2 linked regions of the Homo sapiens genome follow. The protein of the gene in region 1 purifies or fractionates together with the protein of each later gene. This does not show direct contact. Each region holds a gene or a part of one and is shown on either strand. Other genes may lie near its edges.

What was found.
Region 2: the proteins of KLHL3 (region 1) and WNK2 purify together in Homo sapiens (affinity purification with western blotting; 2 studies listed by BioGRID, with this or other methods). This does not show direct contact.

Annotation. Positions count from the first base shown.
Region 1 is NC_000005.10:137,725,977-137,733,250, forward strand, and holds part of KLHL3 (kelch-like protein 3), read right to left. Parts: intron 1-7,274. UniProt on the Homo sapiens protein: Substrate-specific adapter of a BCR (BTB-CUL3-RBX1) E3 ubiquitin ligase complex that acts as a regulator of ion transport in the distal nephron.
Region 2 is NC_000009.12:93,180,004-93,187,316, forward strand, and holds the start of WNK2 (serine/threonine-protein kinase WNK2), read left to right. Parts: upstream 1-4,135; 5' UTR 4,136-4,382; intron 4,383-4,924; 5' UTR 4,925-4,926; coding exon 4,927-5,607; intron 5,608-7,313. UniProt on the Homo sapiens protein: Serine/threonine-protein kinase component of the WNK2-SPAK/OSR1 kinase cascade, which plays an important role in the regulation of electrolyte homeostasis, cell signaling, survival, and proliferation.

The DNA.
Region 1 (7,274 bases):
GGCTTTCAGCTTCTCTTTTCCCCTGACTTAGACTATTACAGTGGCCTCCCACCTGCTGTTCCCCACTCTAGATACTCTCCCTCCAAGTATTTCCTGCACACCATCGCCAAACTGATCCTTCTAAAATGTCATCTGACCATGACTTTCAGATCCTCACTGCACACAGGTCTCTTCGGGGCTGTGAGGTTTATGAGCTGAAGCTTCAGTCACAGCCCTCTGCCTCCATTTGTTCTATATGTTGAGGGTCCACATAAAATTTCCTTTCAAAGGACTCTATAGCTAAAAAGCTGAAAAATCATCAGTCTACAGGATAAAGTCATGATTCTTGACTAGTATTCAAGGACCTCCTTGACCTGGACTGAACCTAAATGCCAGCCTTACCTCTCTCACTTACTCAAATATTTACTAAGTACCTATTATGTGCCAAGCAGATGAACCGTTCACTGCAGACACCTATATTTCCCTTCTCTTTCCCTGTATCATAATCTAAATACCTGTTCTTTGAGGACCAATTAAACTTTACCTCCTCCATGAAACCCTCGGGATACATCAGTTCTAAGTGAGCTCTTCCTTCTCTGAATTCCTGTAGTATTTCTGGCCTGTAACTCAACTGGCACATAGAATTCTGCCTTGTGCCTGATTACTTTTTCAGGGTACAAATCCAACCACCTACCTGCCTCACACTAGATTCAACATACCCAGAGGGCAAGGAACATGTGTCTGAGGACTCTGTATAGCTTAGCCTGCCCAGCATGAGGTCATGCCCACAGTAGGTCCTCATGACATATTTGTCATCTGAACTCTACCTGAAGACCCTTCACTTGTCTTTACAAGCGTTAGATGGTAGAGTAGAAGGGGATAGTCTGACCAACACTTTTATTTTTTAATGAAAGCAGAGTTGGCCTTCAGAGTTAAATTATAAATAAAATATACATAAAATAGTAATTATAAAAGTTATAAATAAAAATATATAAGCTCTAAAAATTAGGCCCTCTTTTAGCACAGCACCTTCCAAAGCCTTCTTTCTTGCCCTCCTCTATCCTCTAAATTACAGATCCACATATCCAATGTCTTATTTGACTCCCCTAATTAGATTTTACACAGGTAATTCATACTTATTCAAAATTTATGTTCCCCACCCTCCCTTAAGCCTGCTACTCTTTCTGTATTCTCTATCTCAGAGGCATAACCAACCACCCAATCACCTATCCAAGCCAAAAACTGGGGTGTTATCCTTGATATCTTCCTCCCTCTCTCTCTCTCTCACTCCTCACATACAGCCATAAATCGAATCAATCCTATGTCCATTAATATCCCTGCACCCCATTTCCTTCTCACTTTCGCTACCATTACAACCCCATTCCAGGTCATCATTGTCTCTTGCCAGGATTATTATAATAACCTCCTCCCAGACTCCAGAGGGACTTTTCCAAAATGTCAATGTGTTCCAGGCATGTTCTACATGAAGCCTCACTGATTCCTCACTGCATTCAGAATAAATCTCAGGGACCTAGCCTGGCCCTTAATCCCATCGTTGCCCTGAAGACTTCTTATTACCGTAATACTAAAATACTTGCAATAGCCAAAATACACTAGGCTCTCTGCCTTGTGAAGTTTTGTCTCACTAGAAAACTGTTCTATCTTATTCCCCACTCATTCTCCCGTGTCTAGCTAGTTCCTACCAGCCTTCAAGCCTCTTCCCTGAAGCCTTCCCTCTCATTCTCCACTACTCACTAGATTAGTTAAAATCTAGTGGGAAACTAGGTTAGTTTCCCCAGTTCTGTATTCCCACAGTACTGTGCTTCCTTCTGTATTGTATTCTAATTACCTCTTACTTATCTGTCTGCCCCACACAGTGTGTGCTGGTAAATGTTTAACAGTTGATTGGGAGGAAAGGAGCCCTGATTTGTAACATTTGCCAATTTCCAGACTGTAAATACTCCCACCATGGCAGATTTTAAGCTACCAACATGATGCCACCGAACATGAGATTTGGGAAGAGATGTGCAACAGCACACCATCATATCACTGTATAGTATTTCTACACCAAGACACAATAGACATAACCTCAAAGCCCTAGAAGATTACAGTAAAAAATAATTAGAAAGTGATGAGTTTGGGGTATTTATTACATTCATTTTTAATATAATTTATAAGTTACATAATTTGTTAATAATGGCTATATTTAATAACTGGCTCCGAAAATTCCTGAAAATTTAACAAACAGCTTTTCCAAGTGGGTGAGTGCTGACTCCAGCACACTGCTGCCCCCTCTAGATTGTGAGCTCTCCATGAGAACCAAGACAGTTATCTTAGTTGCCTCTGAATTCTTAGCTTCTGTCACATGACAGGTGCTCAATGAATGATTACTGAGTAAATTAATAGGTAGATAAGTAAATTAGGTTTAACTACTGACCACTGTAGCTTTCCTCACTCCCCTTCATTAAAATACTGATGGCTTTGTCCCCCTCAACTTTCTCTCCATGACCCCTCCACCTCACGTTCAGAGAGGAGTACTTTCTTAGGCAGCCCAGTCCCCTGCATTGATGACACAGAATCAGGAGGATGGGAGTGAGAGAAAGCCAGCAACAACTAGAGAAGAGGGAAGAAAGTGAGATAGGTTACTGCTTACTGTGTCAGTTCTTAGACTCTTTCTATTGCTGAGGAAAATGGAGGCAGTGAATGGAAAGGAAAGGATACTAAAAAACATGCTAGAAAGGCAGGGGATAGAAGAGTCTCCAAGCAGGCTGATTGTGCAGCAATGTTTGGGGGAATCCAACAAATGAGGAGCTCCAAGTGATGAGAACTCACGGACACAAAGAAGGGAACAACAGACACTAGGGCCTACTTGAGGATGGAGGGTGGGTGGAGGAAGAGGAGCAGAAAAAATAACTATTGGCTACCTGGGTGATGACAGGTACTAATCTGTACAACAAACCTCTGTGACACAAGTTTACCTATATAACAAACCAGCACGTGTACCCCTGAACCTAAAATAAAAGTTAAAAAAAAAAAAAAGAAAAGAAAAAACAAATGAGGAGTTCCAGAACATCTTGGGTGTGCGAGAATGTAGAGGGAAGGAAAGTGGAGTCTGAGAAATGCTGTTAAAGGTTATGATCTGTTTCACCTCTAAAGGTCTCCAAGAGATGCAAATAAAATTCAGAAGTCATGAGCTGATACTGGCCACATACAAGAGGCCCAAGCACATTATGTTCAAGCTAGAGATGAGATGGAATAAAGAGGCAAAACCACTCAATGAAGGCAAAACAACTGTGAGCCAGGGCAAAGCTGTGCTGAATGCATTAAAAACTCTCAACAAAGAAAGTGTCATTTAGAAAGGAATAACCAAAAACTAAGAATCAGACAGAGAAGAAAGCCCTCGGTCCAACCCATCACACTCTGTCTAGGAAAGTGATTTAATCATCAGATATCGTCAGCTGGTTCAGCCTCAGGTCAGATCCTCATGGTGGAGTTTGAAGTCTGTAAATACTCCAATGCCATAACTCAGTCCCTAGTTTACTCTGCAGCCTTTTGACCAGTTTGGCCTCCCCCGTGGTTGTCCTTCAGAGAGGTAGAATGTGGTTGCAGGCCCTCAGGAATATCTTGCCAGTAATATTTTACTGCAAATCAATAAACTGATGACATGTTGACTATTGTATTTTAGGTTCTCATGAGGTCATTGGCATGACTCTGCTTCTCCAACTCTGGACAGCAATGGGACCCTATATAGATAGGATTTCTGAGCCCCTGGCACTCTGGTCAAACTGCAGATCTAGTAAGTATCCCAATCCTAAAGTTCAAGACCAAAATGATCAAACTTAGATTTCTACTTCTGGATTAATGAAGAACCTGACTCTTGAAGATGTCCAGCCAGCAGGATTCAGGACTTGGTGGTGCAGTCCTGCTATCACAAAGTACCATTTACACACAGGTTACCAGAGAGCCCCATACTCTTCATCCTCTTTCAGCAGTGCCACCTCAGTTCATAGAATTAGGCTGAATCGCTATAATAGCCCACATGGACACGTAGAACACATGCATTAGTAAGGTACAGATCGAGTTAACATTTCCTGAAAGTTGAGGGTATGTTAAAGCACCTTACCTCCATTTTATCTTCAGAACAACCCTAGGAAGTAGGTAGCATTATCTCTTAAGGTACAGACATAAAGTCTTCCCAAAAGTCCCACATAACTAGTAAGTGCAGAACTGGCACTGAAACCCAGGTCTATCTGACTCCAAGGCCTGGGCTTTTAATAACAATGTCCACTGACTCGGGATAATGTCCATAGCCCATCAGGCCAAGTGAGGCACAACCCTTCATGTCCCACTCTCTGACGTTCTTCCTTGTGCAACCAAACCAGGCCAAATGAAAAAAGACCAAATCTCCTAGGACCTGTGATATAGCACTACTTCACTTCTGATTATGGGAAATTGCAGTGTGTACTGGAGTCAGTGTTATTAATTGTATTGAACTTGGAGTTTCCACACTGGGGCCTTCACACAAGCCAATCATGATTCACCAAAGATGACCAGCAGATGCTGTCATTCTTGTAACATGCTCCTTCATAAACAAGCTCAAGAACAGGTATGTTACTAATCACATTCCTAAAACCCCAAGTCACAAACTGCTTTCTTTAAAACTCAAGGGGAAAACTCTTAAGTGGGCTGTGTAAAAATGTAAAACATTTTACACAGACAGATAGAATTAGACAAGAAGAGAGAAAGACTAAAAGAAAACATGCTCCTCATTATGTGGCATTTTGGAAGCCAAGCTTATGTTTGGTTTGAATAGGAGAGCTGAGCCCTTGTATGTGTGTGGTTTTGATAGTGGCTATGATATACTTTCATAAGTGAAAATGAAAAGTCCAGGAAAGTTGTGCTAAGACTCTGAAAATCCTCATAAATGATAAAAAGTTAGATCTCTGACCTGAGAGGCATTGAACTTATTTAACAGAAAAAAAAATCTACCAACACATGTTCAAGCTATTTTTTACATGGTTTATTAGTGCTCTATTCCGTTTAACCTAGTTTGAACATTCATCCAGAAATTGAAAAAAAAAAATAGGTCAGTTTGATGATGGCAAATTTCATCAAATAAAGCACTTGCTTTAGGAAAACTTACACAAAAATTATCTTGTCCAGATCTGTTTTACCAGTTCAAAACTTAGCAAGCAAAATCCTAAAAATCCAAATCTGGGTGCAGGGATATCAAGAGGTTTCTTTCCCTGACTTTGTTTTTGCAGTTGAAAACCTTACTTTGTCAAAAAGTATTTCCAAAATGGAAAAATTTGGTTTCAATTATCATGGTTGAAATGCGTGCACATCTGCTTCAGGCAGCAGTGATGCCCAAAACTTTTTACAGAATTTTCTATCCCTGACTTCTAAGGTTGGGGGAGGACTAAGTGACTTGCCGCTGGGAACAGAAAAAAGGCTAGGTTGCTCAACACTTGCTCTTCCCTGGGTCTTGCCAGCATTCAACCTGACATTACAAAACTCAACATTTAAAGTGTACTGGCTTTCTAAGTCTTGTCTCCTCAGAAAATATTCTCTATCTGTCGTTCCTGGATCAAGGGTAAATAGATGAGCTCCTTTTGCTCAGAAGTTCCCTGAGGTCCAAAAACAGACTCTCCTTCATAAAAACCAGCCATTAAGAACCATCCTCTGAGGACACCTCACACAAAATCACAGCATAGTGCCCGGTACATGGTGCCCCTCTCAAGCAGGGGCATCTCTGTGCTTCTGATGAAGAAAATAATCACAATTTTAAGAAAAATAGACAATTAACTTCCCCTTTTTATGATGCTTCTTCCAAAGTTGTGGTGCTCTGTAACTCTTGCAGATCTGCCACAGTCTGGGCCTGAATGTTTTTTATTGTGGTAAAATAGATGTAACATAAAATGTATAATTTTAACCGTTTTTAAGTACAGTCATACTGTTGTACAACCATCACCACCACCCATCTCCAGAATTATTTCATCTTCCCAAACTGAAACTCTCTATCCATTAAACAATAACTTCCCCACTCCTCCCTCCCTCCAGCTCCTGGTAACCATTTTACTTTCTGTCTCTATGAATCTGACTAACCATTTATTTTGAAATTTTATTTTAAGCTATCCACAAGGCTGATTTCCAGAACTGAAATAAAATCCCAATTGCAAGGGCAACTGCCATTTCTGATATCTATCTTCTCTACATTCACACTCACACAGAAACAATTTATCATTGTAATAGCTAACAGCCAGAGACCCTTTCCCTTTGCAAAACAGAAGACAAAATCACCTTCCTCTGACTGTTCAAGCCACAGTGATTCTCCCATGGAGGGAACTGGGGAAGACTTAGCATCATAAGGTCCAGGAGAGACCTGGAAATCTAGAAAGATACAGCAAAGGCTAGTGCAAATTCACAAGTTCTTCTTAAGAGATTTTGGCCTGAACAAACATGCATCCAGCCCATGGTTCCAACCACTGAGGCAACTAGATGCCACAGGTTGTCTATAAAAAGAAAGATTAAGGTAGATCTTGGTGAAACCTAAAAGAAGAAATGCCAAGCCCTATGGGGTAACTTACTATAAGGAGATAGTTTTAGATAAGAAGCAAGATGACGGCCTGATAAGCTCCCTCATTTCCTCATGGAAATGGTTCTACATAATCTGCTTTGGATGATAAAAAAAGAGAGGTCCTAAAATATGCCTTGGTTAGTAACCCAGCAGCAAAGTATAGGGTACAACATAGCAATAGGTGGATACCAATGATAATAGCAACTACCATCTACTGAGTACTCACTCTGTGCCTAAAAAACTTTACTAGGTACCTTACACATATTGTACCATTTAATCTTCACAACAGCTCTATGAAGTGTAAGTACTGTTATTATTCCCTTTACACAGAAGAGAAAAATTAGTTCTGAAAAAAATGTGACACACTCAAGGTCACACTGTTTGTAAAGCAGATTCACCGCTAGGTCTATGTTACTCCAAAGTCCATGCTTTTAATTAATAGCCTTTCAAGGTAGAAAGTATTTTCATACCCTCATGGCAAAGAAAAAAAAAATTGTTCATTAGCAATCCCTTGGTTGAAATTTTGTAATGCTTAAAAACAGCCCCGATTAAGATTCAGCAGGTTAAGTGTGGAATGAGCACCAGATTGAGGATCCCTCCAGTCTCTGGAGGTTGGACATGTGATCCTAGGCGAGTCACTCAGCTTCTCTGGACCTCAATTTCCCAGGGAACTTGTAAAACAAGGCTACTTCCCTCTGTTCTCCCCCTACCTCAAAGC
Region 2 (7,313 bases), on another chromosome or scaffold:
ATCTTGGTTCATGTAACCTCTGCCTCCCAAGTTCAAGTGATTCTCCTGCCTCAGCCTCCTGAGTAACTGGGATTACAGGTGCACACCACCACACCCAGCTAATTTTTTTGTATTTTTAGTAGGGACAGGGTTTCACCATGTTGGCCAGGCTGGTCTCGATCTCCTGACCTCAGGTGATCCACCCGTTCGGCCTCCCAAAGTGCTGGGAATACAAGCGTGAGCCACAGCACCTGGCCTACTTTTAGCTGTATGATCTGCCTTACCAGAACTGAGCGTCACCCCAAATCTCACCTCTCCACTAGAATCGCAAATAAAGTCCTACACAGTGAAGTGTTGACTTAGGAAACGGGATCGTTTTCTGATTTGTGTGTCATACTTCGGAACATTTCTAATGGAACCCTGCTGTTGGAAGGAAACAAGTTCTTCAACCATTCATCCATCACAGCTGAGTCAGAAGCGTTGTGTCATCCTGTACCACCCGACCTGCCTACCTCAGGCCCTACCCACGGGGAGCTTCCATCCTGCTGGTTGTCCTGAGGCTCTATGACCCACAGCAGGAAGACACTGCAGCCTGGTCATGCCCTTCCCATCCTCTGACATCATCTTCCAGGAGTAGGGGCCCGAGCTTCCACAGCCCACCTGCTCCCACCTACTGCCACCTTCCTGCCACCACACACTGTCAGGCCTTCATCCTGTCCCCACGCCCTTCCTCAGGTCACAGGTCTTCCTGCATTCCCCCAAGCCACTTGCCTGGCCTCTCTGGGCTCTGCTTTTCCAGCACTGTCCTCCCCATCTGATGCCCCTGCCAGGGTATTCTCCCCATGGTGTGACCCGGGGGGCACTCAGGCAAGTGGCCTGGCCACACTGGACCTGAGCACTAGATAGGTTGCCTGACTCCACTCAGAGGCAGAACCTGCCCCACGGGGCAATTGTGGACTGAGCTCCAGCTGGGCATGGCTAGACCCTGCTCTTCCTTCTAGCCAGTGACCCTCAATGGGCCCTGATGTGAGCAGAGGCAGTGGAGCTAGCCCCATCTCCTTTCCTCCCTTCTTTCATGAGCATTTGTTGAATGCCTTTTGTTGCCAAGACTGTTGAGCATGACCATTATGCCCATCTCACAGATGAGCAAACTGAAACCATGGTCCTGTTGCTTGCTGAGGCCCAGCTCCTGGAACTGCATCTGCATGGAGCAGGTGTGTGCCTGCACGTGCCTACTGGCTGGGTAGGCTGGAGCATAGCCTGGACTTGGGAGAAACTTTTTTCACCAAAGGGGCTCCCTGGCATTGTGGAAGCTAAGGTGATAGCTGTGGGTAGAGGTCACTGTCTCCACTCTGAGGCCTTGAGAAAGTTACTTAAAGTTGAAAAATCTCTGGGCAAGACCTCAATGTACTCATCTGTTCTAAACATCGAAGACAAATGCTGCCCCGTAATCCCAGCACTTTGGGAGGCTGAGGTGGTTGGATCACTTGAGGTCAGGAGTCCGATACCAGCCCGGCCAACATGGTGAAACCTCATCTCTACTAAAAATACAAAATTAGCTGGGCGTGGTGGTGGGCGCCTGTAATCCCAGCTACTCAGGAGGCTGAGGCAGGAGAATTGCTTGATCCTGGGAGGCAGAGGTTGCAGTGAGCTGAGCTGAGATCCCGTCACTGCACTCCAGCCTGGGCAACAAAGTGAAACTCCATCTCAAAAAAACAAAAACAAAAGCAGAAAACAAAAAACAAACCTCCAAAAGACAAATGCTGGCATCATGACCCTGGATCATGCAGCCTCAGGACACCCAGTAAAGCAGACTACAGTATTTATACTCCCCGTCTTAGCAGCAGGGAGATGGAAGCTCAGAGATATCCAGTGACCTGCCAAAGGGCATATAGCCAGTGCTGTGAAGTCCTGACTTCCAAGGTCTGTCCAAGGATCCCTCAGGCTCCATCTGCCAGGATCCCAGGAGCTGCTCCTGAGCCCAGCCTGAGATTCCTTGCAGAGGAAACTGTGACCTGTCCACTACTGACTTAGCTGTGTACCCTAATGGTCATGGGTTGGCAGAGAGAATGAGCTCTCCACCATGGGAGGTGTGTAAGCAGAGATGCGTGAATTCACCCCAAGGGCTCAGAGAGCACACAGTACTCTCTCAGGGACAGGCTGTCCCCCACTCCCCACAGCCTGGGCTGCTCCCTGCTGATTTGTGGGTGTAGCCATCCTTTCCCACGCATGTGTACAAGTGTGGGTGGGCAGCAGCCATGGGTGCTGATGAACCTTCTCCGATGCTGGCAGGTATTTTGCCCACACACTGCCAGTGTGGCCTGTTGGGAGCAGGAGGAGGCCAGATAGGTGTGTGCTGGTCTCAGAACACGCTTAGCTCTGTCCCATCCTGGTTTTCCCTTGGATAGGCTTGAACACACCCATCATGAACAGGTCTGTGGACTTGGTGCCCTTCCTAGATTGACTGAATCTACAAGGAATTGGCAGCCTTTTAAGGTGGGCAAGTCAGGATGATCAGCCCACTCTGCAGGGCCAGATACTGAGGCTCAGGAAGGACCAGGACTTGCCCAAGTTCACTCAGCTGGTTAGGGGCAAGGTTGGGGGGTCTTTAGCCTCCAAAGGGAAGACAGAAAAGATCCTTTTCCACCCCTGACCTCTACCTGGAAGACTCCTGCCCCAGGAGATGCAACTTAGATCCCTGTCCCTCAGGCCTCTCTGTCCTGCAGAGCTGGCGTCTGCTGTTTGGCCTCCTCCTCGTGTGAGCTCTGGGCTCATGCCAGCGGACTTGAGCCCCGGAATGAATGCCTGTCTCACACGGTAGATTAGATTATATAAATAACAGGCAAGTGCCAAATGCATAGCCCTACACCTAGCACACTATTTAACCACTGGCTCTCTGGGGAGAAAAGTCCTGATTTGAGGTGTTTGCCAATTTCCGCAGTGTAAATACTCCCAGCATTGCTGACTTCAGGCTACAGGGTGGCATTGCTGAACCCAGAGCTGGGAAGGGATGTTCACTGTTGCCCCTCACAAATTAGTTTCAGCCAGTGCCAGTGCCCAGCGGGGCTCCAGGAAGTCCTGCTTCTCTGGGTAACAGTTGGCCTGGCATATTCTTCCCTCTACATTGTGAAGGTGAGATATCGCCTCTGCTGGCTTTTATGCCACATGAGTTATTTTGTGCCAGGGGCTCCAAGGCCTACAGGCCCACAAGCATCTTTTCATCTCTGGAAGTGTGTGTGTATCTGATGGGGGTGCCAGCCCAGTGGGATGGGGACTGAGATGAGAATACTCTGGTATCTCCCTTGTGCCTCAGTTTCCTCACCTAGGATCATGGAGGCTGGGGTAAGGGTGAAGTGTTAGCTCAGGGCATTGCCTGGAGCAGGGCTCAGAACTTAGCAGTATGGTTACTGACACAGGTCACCTGCTGCATTAGGGCCAGAGACGCCCAAGAGAGGGCTTGTCCGTGGGGGTCTAGAGGAGGAAGGAGCTAGAGATCATGGAAGACTTCTCGGGAGAGGTGGCATCTGGCAGAGGTGGGAAGGAAGAACACTTTGGGTCAAGGGGCTTCTGGAAGCCTCTCCATATCCCATCCAAGGCATTCCAGCTCAGCTTCGGTCTTGAAAGTTCTGGGATTTAGAGCATATAACTTCTGCCTTTGGCGCCTCAGTTTGCTCTAGACTGTGAAATGGGCATAATGATCACCAGTGCCTCCCTGGGTGATGATGAGGTCCTCATGGTTCCTGGTGGTGAAGTGAGGGCAGGAAAGGACACGCTGAGCCCCACCAGGCTTAGCCCCAGGCTGGGCTCCCGAGGGCGGCGGTACCCCTGGTCCTTTTCTTCCTAGCCTGCCCATTCTGTCCTGGCACAGGGCCTTGAGGTCTAGCGCGCCGGGCTGCGGCGTGCTGAGGCGTTGAGCCTGCTGCCTCCTCTCAGGAAGAAACGGGGTCCTCCGCAGCTGACAGCCCTGCGGGGCGTTCCAAAGAACTTCAGAGGACAGGAGCGCTACCTCGAGCAAAGAACCGCGGGTGGGAGCCCAGGTAGCCGGCCCGCAGGTGGCCGCGCGCGCCTGCCAGTCAGCCAGCCCGTCCGCAGCCAGGTGGGCGTGCCAGGCCCAGCCCCCTGCGCCGGTCCGGGGCGGGGCGAACGGAGCCCCGCCCTCCCCGCGCGCCGGGTCGGAGCCGGTGCGGGAGCGGAGCCGCGCGAAGCCGGCAGGAGCACGCGGGAGCGCGGCCCCGCAGTGGCCCGGCCCGAGAGAGCAGCGCGCAGGAGCTGGAGCGGCGCCACGGCCCCCACCCCAGCGCGGACCTCGCCCGGAACTCGGACCCCGTCCTCGAAGCGTGATCTCTCCCGCCTCGCACGCCCTGGCCGCCGGGCCGCGGGCATGGACGGCGTCCGCTCGCCCTGTGAGTGCCGAGCCTCCCCTCAACGCCGCTCGCCGCCTTTGTGTGCGCGCCGCGGCGCTGCAGCCCCCTCCCCGCGCGCCCCTCCCGCGCCCCGGGCCCGCGTCCTTTGTGGAGCCGCCGCCGGGCCACTGCCTTCCTCCCACCCCCGGGCTTCCCTATCCCCTTTACAGCTGCCTCCGGGACAGCCTAGCAGAACCCTCCTGGGCCAGGGCTGGGCAGGGCGCGAGATCCCTCTGCCGGCCTCCGGGGCCCTCAGGGACACCCTAGCAGGTCCTCTCTCCCAGGGTTCCAGGGACACCACAGGCCCGTCCCTCTCCGCAGCCTGGGGCTGAGCAGGGCACGGACCCCTCCTCCCCAACCCAAGCCTCTGGTCCCGTCTGCAGCCCCCCTTTCCCAGGGCCCCCAGAGACGGCCCCCGCAGGCTCTCTCCGCGGCCGGGGCTGGGCAGGTTGCGGGCTTAGGGCGGCGTTGTCTCATCCGGCGGCCTGGGCAGGTGCGGCAGGGCCGGCGCTCACGCGGGCCTGTGTGTCCTTGGCCCACAGAGATGGACGGCGATGGCGGCCGCCGAGACGTCCCCGGCACGCTGATGGAGCCCGGGCGCGGCGCGGGGCCCGCGGGCATGGCGGAGCCTCGGGCGAAGGCGGCGCGGCCGGGGCCCCAGCGCTTTCTGCGGCGCAGCGTGGTAGAGTCGGACCAGGAGGAGCCGCCGGGCTTGGAGGCAGCCGAGGCGCCGGGCCCGCAGCCCCCGCAGCCCCTGCAGCGCCGGGTGCTTCTGCTCTGCAAGACGCGCCGCCTCATCGCGGAGCGCGCCCGCGGACGCCCCGCCGCCCCCGCGCCCGCAGCGCTGGTAGCGCAGCCGGGAGCCCCCGGAGCCCCCGCGGACGCCGGCCCCGAGCCCGTGGGCACGCAGGAGCCCGGCCCGGACCCCATCGCAGCCGCTGTCGAAACCGCGCCTGCCCCCGACGGCGGCCCCAGGGAGGAGGCGGCGGCGACCGTGAGGAAGGAGGATGAGGGGGCGGCCGAGGCGAAGCCTGAGCCCGGGCGCACTCGCCGGGACGAGCCCGAAGAGGAGGAGGACGACGAGGACGACCTCAAGGCCGTGGCCACCTCTCTGGACGGCCGCTTCCTCAAGTTCGACATCGAGCTGGGCCGCGGTTCCTTCAAGACGGTCTACAAGGGGCTGGACACGGAGACCTGGGTGGAGGTGGCCTGGTGTGAGCTGCAGGTGAGGGTGCCCCAGCCCGCAGGGGGCTTTCCGCAGGGTCTGTCCGCGAGTGCGTCCTTGGGCCTGTCCTTGCTCCTGCGCCTGGCCTTAAGAAGCCCTGGGGGCGGCGGGGCTCCATGTGTGTCACCCTCTGTGTGGATGGCTGGCAGGATGCATACCAGGTGTGCGGACGGCATGTGGGGCCTGGCTGTGTCCGTGCGCAGGTTGCGGTTTGTGAGTCAGCTGGTGGCGAGGGCAGGCCTCTGTTGTGCGTTTGGTGTAAGTGTGCACGCTGTGGGCGTAGAGAGGGTCCTGGAGAGTGGGCCTCGGAGGCTGTGTCTCTTAGGCTGCTGCTTCTCCAGTCCCGATGACCTACTTTAATGACCCAGGGAGTCTGGACTGTTGTGTCTTTGCAAAACAGTGTGGAGGCTTCAAGGCCCGGTGTGTGCAGTCAGAGTGTTTTGGGGGCTCTGGGCTGCCCATAAATTAGTACTTTCCTGTGTCCAGCAAGCCGTGGCTGCCCCAGCAGGGATACCTGCAGAGACTTCTTCTGACCCAGGGCCTGTGACCCAGAGGTGGTGCCTGGTAGAGCTCTGGGGACAGCTGGGCAAGGCCTGGAAGTGTGGTTAGTCGCCTCTGCTGCTCTGAGAGCTCCATTTGTTCACAAAATGGACGTGTGAGAGGTCTTAAAACCGAGTCATGCAGAATGCGTGTGGGGGTTTTTCTTGGCTGCAGAGGCTCTGGGCATGCATTTTTCATAATCCTGCCATCACCGTGGTGTCAGCCCCAGCCCTGCAAGATTATATAAACAGCCACCTTAGCTGTCCTGGGACAGCCTAGGAAGCAGAGGCCATGCCTGTCCAGGGGGTGTTTACAGGCCTCCCTCCTTGGAGGTGGGCAGCTGTCAGGCGTGAGCCAGTCTGGGAGAGTGCCGGCTGGAGGTGTAAGTGTACTCTGTTGGCCTGTAAAGTTAGCTGGCTGTCCAGTCCAGGCCTGAAACGGGGCTGGGGCTAGCTGGGGCAAGCTGTGTTCTGGGGCCGCTGGCCACACTGCGGGACTCTTGCATTTTTGACTCAGAAGTGGGATTCAATTGCTATATCCTCCGGCCCCGACAGGGTGGCCTGCGTGTGTGTGCAAGCCTGGATAATTCGGTGGGTGTCGACCTGTCGTCAGCCTTTCTCCCAAGACAAAGAGCTCCAGAGACCTGCCTCTCCACCACCCCTTGGTTCTGCCTTGGAGATGTGGCTTTTCAAGTTAGGGGTCAGTGGCATTGTGTGAGGTCCTTAGGAGGGACTGAACAGCTCCCCTCCCTCATGGTCCTGTAGGTTCTGATGGTACAGGAAAGGCAGTGGGTGGGGCAGGGGGCTGTGATCTGGGGGTCCTGGGGTGTGCTGGGCATTCCTGCTGCAAGGGAAAGCAGAGAGAAGAGAGGGCCTGAAAGGGGAGACGACTCTTGATTCTGGCGAGCGGTCTTCCTGCTCTTGCCCTTCTGACCGGAGCACCCTCAGGTGCTGCCTCTGCAGGGTGGTGGATGGAACAGGGGTGCTGCAGTAGGCTGGATTTGAGTTAGACCTCGGCAGCCAGAGCCTGCTGATCTGGCTGAGGCATCGCAGGCGCATGTGACTCTTGGAGCTTGTTAGTTCCCATTCCCTTTAAGGAAACGCAGGCGATTCTGTCTCTGGGTCTGTCCCCTGCAGGCATGGGGTGGAGCCTGGCCTCTGTCCAGG